2 linked regions of the Homo sapiens genome follow. The protein of the gene in region 2 purifies or fractionates together with the protein of the main gene of each other region. This does not show direct contact. Each region holds a gene or a part of one and is shown on either strand. Other genes may lie near its edges. The genes, in order: UBE3B and MAN1A2.

The links.
Region 1: the proteins of MAN1A2 (region 2) and UBE3B purify together in Homo sapiens (affinity purification with mass spectrometry; one large-scale study listed by BioGRID and IntAct). This does not show direct contact.

What each region holds. Positions count from the first base shown.
Region 1 is NC_000012.12:109,483,827-109,487,847, reverse strand, and holds part of UBE3B (ubiquitin-protein ligase E3B), read right to left. Parts: intron 3,988-4,021; coding exon 3,867-3,987; intron 1,837-3,866; coding exon 1,777-1,836; intron 1,378-1,776; coding exon 1,273-1,377; intron 1-1,272. UniProt on the Homo sapiens protein: E3 ubiquitin-protein ligase which accepts ubiquitin from an E2 ubiquitin-conjugating enzyme in the form of a thioester and then directly transfers the ubiquitin to targeted substrates.
Region 2 is NC_000001.11:117,366,262-117,370,248, reverse strand, and holds the start of MAN1A2 (mannosyl-oligosaccharide 1,2-alpha-mannosidase IB), read right to left. Parts: upstream 2,801-3,987; 5' UTR 2,066-2,800; coding exon 1,764-2,065; intron 1-1,763. UniProt on the Homo sapiens protein: Involved in the maturation of Asn-linked oligosaccharides. Progressively trim alpha-1,2-linked mannose residues from Man(9)GlcNAc(2) to produce Man(5)GlcNAc(2).

The sequences.
Region 1 (4,021 bases), on a different chromosome or scaffold from region 2:
CGACAGTAAGAGAGGGGAAGCAGCTTGTTCAAGGCCACGTGGGAAATGAACAGCAGAATCAGGACTGAATTTCACATATTCCTGGCTCCAGAGTCAGGGCCCTTTTTCTCCTGACGTCTGTTTCTTTGCATAAACTTTTTTTGTTTGTCCAAAATAGAAGAGCTTCTCCTCAAAGAGCAATCTGTTGTGGAATGTACACATAGAGAGCAGATAAACAAGGATCTGCCTGGCTCGCGTGCAGGTAGGGAAATACCCTGCTCACTTGGCCCTAAGGCATTCTGGTGGACTCCCAGGGCTCCGAGGAACATAGTGTGGAAACCCTGCGCTGAGCCATGTCTCACCTGACAAGCCAGGCATGGCAAGAGCCATTCCTGAGCAGCCAAAGAGGGATGGCTGGGAATGGATTATTACTGGGGTTGGGGGCGGTCTGGGGACTTTCGTTCCATTACTGAGCTGCTATCTGTGTCCTTGCCAAGCCTCTGTCCCTGAGACCTCTCTATCCTTATAAGCAAAGTGGAAGTGGCTCCTGTGTATGTCTGCTCACACCCCTGTCCATCCTTTTCAGAACACTGAAGGGGGTAGGGGAACACAGGACCAGGCTGGGCTAGTGGCAGTACCCCATTCCTCTTGCCACTGTGACTGGTTCAGAGATGAACCCAGGATTCACTGGACCTACAAGAAACCTGGATTTTTGAACTGGTCGGGAGGCCTCTCCTCCCTTTAGTCAAGACAGAGTAAGAATATAAAGTCAAAACTGCTCGTTGCCATGATTACAGCAGGAAAGGACGAGGTGACCCCAAAAGGGAGCAGGGATGAGAGAAAAGAATGAGAGGGAGAATCAGAACCCCCTAGCTCTCCTTACTCTAGCTGCCACGTTACTGAATATATTCTAGAGCACAACGTTCTCTTCCTTGCTTAACTGGTACGTGATACTAGCTGTGCTCACGTTCGGCTTCTGTACTTTTAACAAGAGGCCTGACTAGTATAATAATGTAGATCATAAAGTACTGATTACATTAAATGAATGGGAAGGAAAGTGACAGATTCCCTGCCATGGAGGCTGTGGCGTGGCAAGCAGTTTAAGGGTCCAACACACACCAAAGGAGGGCTCATATTGATAACAGAATCAAAATTCCTCTCTTCCAGAACAGTGGCTCAACTAGCAACTCTCGTTGATAGTGACTCTGAAAATACAGACTAAAGTCTACAGGTGAAAATGACATACGTACTGTTTCTGGTTTTGCTTTTTTTTTTTTTTTTTTTTTTTGTTACCTTGAGCTGCTTGAGAAAATCACAGCAGTACCACAAAATGTTCTTGATCTGTTGAATCCAAAGGAGGGTGAGGTCCTTAGAACAAGCCAGGGACACATACCACACCTATAGGTGGGAAAAAGAGGAATGTCATGGGCTGTTATAGAGATCATATCACTTGTGCTCTAACTGTTGGAACTGGACCTATTAGTTAGGTCCAGTGCCAGATAAAGCAGTGGACCTGAATGGACAAATAAGCTGTAAACAGGACTTATTTTAACACTAAACGCAAAGACAAAATAGCCTAGTAAGAAAATTTACTATCCTGTGTTGTGGCAAGAGCAGAACGTAGCTACCTGGATCATGAAGAAACTAAGGAATCATTTGTACTTTGGTAATGTTTTCCATCCACTACTTATTTGCATTTGTGTGTGAATTGGTCCTAATATTCAACAGGAACTTTCAGAGCCCAGTAGGTTGGCCCTTAAGAGCTTGTGGGAGACACTGCGGCTCCCGTCCACTTACCTTAGGCTCATTCTCAGCATCCATGCTGCTCAGGATGCTGCGACACAACTTCTCAAATCTCTGCAAAGAGACACACTGGGGGTTATACATTCCCACAATCCATCAAAAAGTGAAAACAAAGAAAACAAGCCTTCAGCGGGTACCTGGCACGTGCAGGTATTATGCCAGGTGATTCACACATAATCACATGCAGTTCCTTCCTACAGATGAGGACACTGAAGATCATAAAGACTAAAGGGTTCTCCAACTGGTGGCCCAAGAGCTGGAGGAACCCTATAGAAATGTTTTAGAAACTGGTATACTTCACATAAAAACCCAAATTGAGGCTTCTTTCAAAAAACAGTATCAATCTGGCAAACTGGATTTGGATTCCTGCAGGCCTGCTGCTGTCTCCTCAACTGTGCTCTCCAGTTTACCTTTTCTTAAGCACCATGGATACTGACTTTTGCCTCACAGCCAGTAGCCAAAGGCTGCTGTATCATCACTTTTATCCTGTAATGCAAAAGGAAGAAAAGTGGAAACTAGAAAACAGGTTCCATTTTGGCTATACCAATCCTGGATCCGCCCTTAAACCATGTGATATTGGGCAAGCTGCCCTACCACCCTGAGCTGCAGTTTCCTTCTCTGTAAGATGAGGTTCACCTCCTCCAGCTTATCTGTCCTCATCTACGTAATCATGTGTTCACTGCCTGCATAGTCCTCCCTCTCTTGCTGGGCTATGAGCTCCATGAGCGTAGAGATCTTGCCCGTCCTGTTTCCTCCCAAGGGCCCAGTGCCTAGAGAGGGTTGGCACAATGTGAAGCTTAGCAATAGGAATGCCTAACAGCCTAACAGCTGGTAACTTGGAGACATGCCTCAGTGGCATTGTTAGTACTATTACAGATAACTAGCTGCTTTTCTGGGATTACACTTTTCAGGCTGATCATTCTAATCCCTAAGGTGCAAACTGGCACCTTTTGTATGATTTGCAGGATATTTAAAAAATTTCAAATTAATTGCCAAGATTTACAAATTAGAACATTGATGGTAGCTCACGCCTGTAATCCCAGCACTTTGGGATGCTGAGGCAGGTGGATCACTTGAGCCCAGGAGTTTGAGACAAGCCTGGGCAATAAGGTAAAACCCTATCTCTACAAAAAATACAAAAACTTGCTGTGCATGGTGGCACACACCTGCAGTCCCAGCTACTGAGGAGGCTGAGGCAGAAGAATCGTTTGAGACTTGGGAGGTCAAGACTATAGTGAGCTGTGATAGTGCTACTGCACTCCAGCCTGGGCGACAGTGAGACCCTGTCTCAGAATATGAAAGAATGAATGAACGAACATTGAGCATAAAAACTCAGATCTTTGGCATCTCTTTAAAAAAAAAAAAAAAAAATCAGAGGCTGGGTACAGTGGCTCACGCCTGTAATCCCAGCACTCTGGGAGGCTGAGGCGGGCAGATCACAAGGCTAAGAGATCGAGACTATCCTGGCCAACATGGTGAAACCCCATCTCTACTAAAAATACAAAAATTAGCTGGGCGTGGTGGCACGAGCCTATAGTTCCAGATACTAGGGAGGCTGAGGCCGGAGAACTGCTTGAACCCGGGAGGTGAAGACTGGCAGTGAGCCAAGACTGCGCCACTGCACACCAGCCTGGCGACAGAGAGAGACTTCATCTCAAAAAAAAATCAGAGTATGAGTCCACCACCGAGGTGTGTAGTAGCTGCTCCCCGTGGATGGGGCAGGCCACAGACCCTGCTACTCCTTTTGATGTCCTTACCACTGCTGCCTGTCAGTTACCGTTTAATATGATTTGTATTTTGTATTATGTTTTATCTCATATATGTTTTTTTTACTCATTTACCTAAACTTCCTGACTCTTGCATGCATCTGAGTTCAACTTGTGCTTATAATGGTCAATGTGAAAAGATTCCTAAAAGCACTGGGCATAATCCCTCCAAAACAGGTCCCAAGAAAACAAAAGGGACAGGATGTGAGGGTGACAGTAATTACCTCATAAAGCTGCTATAAGAACTGAGTTAATATCAATAATTATAAAAGATCTGACATATGGAAGTATTATACATGTTTGCTATTATCGTTTTACCTCATTATCCTCTTTGATTCTGAATAGGAACAGCAGTTTCCTGGCAATCTTGAAAATACAAAGTGCACTTCTTTTAGTGGACTCAGGGTCATCTGCTTTAAAAAAGTCATCAATCTCTCTCCTAGAAAAGAAAGTGCAAAAAAAGACATTTTAAA
Region 2 (3,987 bases):
CAATAACCAATCTCTCATTCCAAACTCAGGAACCCAATAGTTTTAGATAGCTAAATACATATGCATATATATCCAAGGGCTTCATAAATTTAAGAATTCTTGTTTAAACTATTTATACAGACTGTTAAAAATGTGAATAAAAGGCACATATCTGTATTTTCATTCAAATTTCATATTTTAACTCCATTTACTGAGAATTTTTGTGTAAATGTTTTTAAACTAAAATGTGGTCATATTATTTTAAACTTTTAGACCATTCAAAATGTATTTTTTAAACTGCTTAGTACATGACAGATACTATTAATAATAGAGCTAAGTAATGTTAATGTGTGGCTGTTGTGAAACAGCTCTAAAAACAGCCTTAACACATTTTTTCAATATATTTCATATGTTATACAAATACCATGCGAAATAAGATTTTCAAGGAAAACTACTTTCACCGTTAATTTTTCAGTAACATATTTCACAGATCATATTAGTGTTTTCTTAAAGTCACAACAAGCAAAGTGCAAAATTAAAGAAACAAATACAGGAGTACAGTAGTCGAAAATGGCAAAAATTCCAAATTAACTTAGTTACAAAAGAATGGCATGAAACAATATTAGAAGTAACTACTCCATAAAATTCATCCAAAAGTCAAAGAACCATCACACAAGTAATGAATTAACTAGGTTGAGAAAAAAAGAAAAACCAGTTCTCATAAAACAGTGCATTTTCCCAAATATTTAATGTAGGCTTACACGTGAACCTAAGCTTTTTCGGTGCTTGACAAAAAGTTAAAACTATCATCAGATGGGAAATGAATTCAAGCACATGATTTTTTTTCCCACATACTCAAGAATTATTTTAAGAAACAAGGAAAAGATGGCAGGTTTAAGAAAAGTCAACTACTTTCCCAAACTCTTGAGTACAAATATAAAAATTATAAAAATTGTAACTAGAGCTCCCATTTTATCCTAGTTTGGCTATGCTCTCCCCAGAGCTCACTTTAGATTTAGTGATCTGAAAGAATGTGAACCCCTTAATCAACCAAATTCCAATAGTTGCTTGACACAGTCCATCTATTACATTAAAAGAGAGAGCAAAATTAAGTTTCACAAAAATAAATCTTGTCTACAAGCCTCACAAAGTGCAATAACTTAGGATTCAATACCTTTTAACTTAACTGATTTCATATACAGCACCAACACACATCCCCAAAAAAAGAACAAAAATCAGGATATTTTCACGTTAAGAAATGACAGGTATATTCTGCCCACGTTTGTCATCCTAAAAAGCTGACTCACTACTAAGCTTCAACTACAAGCCAGAAAACGAGAGCCCTCTGGGAGAGCACACCCAAAAGAGCTGTCAAGGTTCGATGCTTTGATTTCACATGGTGGCACAATGACTGACTCCAACACGTTATTAATAAATGCAGGCACAGCTTATGTCACCATTTCTTTAGGTTAAGTTTTCATACCTCCCTTCCCAGATGTCCACATTAGACACAACTCTGAACGCAAATGTTTTTCTTATATAAAACCGAAGAGAAGAACGACTTAGGTAGGACTCCAGTCCTACCAGTCTATGGACTCTACCATAGACTGGAGGTAGAGTCCCTCCAGTCTATGGTTTTATTCAGCCAGTCTTGAAGTAACAATACAATATTTATGACTCGAAAAATTACATTTTACTGCAAGAAAAAAAAAAGACAGATTCGATCCAATCACCGTACCTTGCTCTGCCAAATGTTAGTACCAGAACTTCTGAAATAAACAAACCTGTGTCTATGTTCATCGGGTCCATGGATCAGGAAGACTCCGGGGTTTTTAGCCCCTTTACCGGCATCTACATGTGGAATTAACACATCTTCTAAACCCAAATCAAAGCGTTTGTGTTTTGAAGAGTCTGGAAGGAAAAAGAATGCCCCAAAACACAGAGTGATGAAGGCACTAAGAATAAGGAGAAGAATAAACTTCTCAGAAAGTCTCAAGGTAGCCCTGTGATGTGGGAAGGAAGGCGGCCCCAGGTTCAGAGGTGGTATCCTACGTCCAGAGAGGGGCAGCAGGGCTGGGGTAGTCATCGTTTACGCTCTTGGAGAGAATACTTTAGAAAGTTCTCATCTTATGTCAAATGTAGAATACATTGAACTGTCTTCAAAATCTTGGCCAAAATGGGAAAACTCAATTTTGCTCCTCTTAAAGGACTGTTGTGCTTTTTAAGAGGGCACGTCATTCACGCCCATCCATTCCCACTCAGAAACGTGTGTGACCTCCCCCAAACGATCACAAGTTTAGGTCCTGCGATATCCTCTTCAACATCTGTACTTCATCGGATTATTACAAGCCTCCTCTTCATTCCTAGGGGTAGATCAGGCAAGCCACACTGCAGAAAAGCTGCAAGGTGGGTTCTTCCATTCCTGCACCTCAGTGAGATGCTCAAACGTAGTCTTCCGCCCCGAAAGGGAGACTGGCGACATCCGAGGAGTTGTAGAAGGTTCACTTGATCTCCTTCGACGCTTCTATTCCAGAATCTCTTAACCTTAGCGGTGGAAAAAATAAGGGTCTCCCACGGACGTCTGCAAACAGGGAGGAAGGTCTCCCACTTCGCTGGGAAGCCGAAGCAGCGGCGCTGGGCGAAGTAGCAGGAAGGAGTTCTCGGCCGCCCGCGCTTCCCGGCGCTGCCTGGCAGGAACCTGGCGCCCGGCTGAGTCCCGCTGCTGCCCACTCGACGGCTGGCGCGAAGGGCAATAGCGTCCGAAACACCTGAGTCCGGCCAGCCGCCGCGGCCGCCGCCGCTGTTGCTACCGCACGGGTCTGTCAGGGAGCGGAACTTCCTCCTCCGGCGGCCACTGAGAAGCCCCGGCGTGTCCTGGGGGAGGGGAGGCGCGGCGGCCGCCCCCGCCGAGCTCCTCCTCCTCCTCCTCCTCCTCTTCCTCCTCCTCCTCCTCCTCTCCGCGGCCGGTTCAGTGAACCCCGGCGCCTGCTCCCCGAGCTAGGCCGCCGGCCGCAGTGGCCGAGCCCTCGCGCCTAAGAAGCCGAGCCGGGGCCCACGCTCCGAGAGCCCGGGGTAGGCGCCGGCTCATTCCTCACTCAGCCCTGGAGCGGCGGGAGGGCCTGGGCGCGCGGGAGCAGCCGCGCCTCGGGCGGGCAGAGGTCGGCCGCGTCTCCTTCCTGCCCGGCCGCGGGGGCCTCCTCCGCGCCGCCTCCGGTGGCTCGCAGCTGCTGGCTCTGGCGGCGGCTGCCAGAGAGGCAGCGCGCCCACGCCGCTCGGGGCTGCGGCCCGGTCCCCGTACCCTGCCTCCCCAGGCCTGGTGAGCGCAGCAGCTGCTGGGCCGACACCCGTTGGGCTCACGCCGGAGAGGAACCGGAGGGCGGGGGCGATGGGACCCGGGCCGGCCTACCGGCCCCGGCTCGCGAGTGGGCGTCCCCGGGCGGCGGAGTGTGAGGTGCGCGCGCACGCTCCCGGCTCCGCTGCCGCCGCCCCTCCCCCACCCAGCCTGGCTGCCCGGGCTCCGGCCTCGCGCCGCTGCCGGCTCCAGCAGCCCGAAAGCGTACTGCTGCCGCCGCCGTCTGAGCGCGAAAGAAGAGAAGGTCGCCGATCTGCGCTGCCACGAGAACTTCACCGGTGCCCAGGGCCTTGCCACCGCCAGTTCGTGGGGTTGACCCAGCGTTTGGGCGAGAGGGAGCGAGGGGTTGGGTCGCGAAGGTTTCGCTGAAATGTAGTGTCACCGGAGTTAATGGCTTCTGATGGCTTAGGTTAACGTTTACTGTGATTCTTTGGAAGTCTTGTCTTCAGCGATAGACCGTCAGGCCCGAGGATTCAGCAACAGGGTCTCAAACTTCCACGCAGCAGCCCATGCTCACGTTATTGGGCCCCCGAGGCTCGATTAATAGAGCACCAACATGTGCCATGTTACGTTTTTAAAATAAAGTGGTGACCCTGCTCCTTCAGCTGGGCTTCCTTTCAGAGGAATCTAGGTACCCCCGATATGACAGGCGTCTC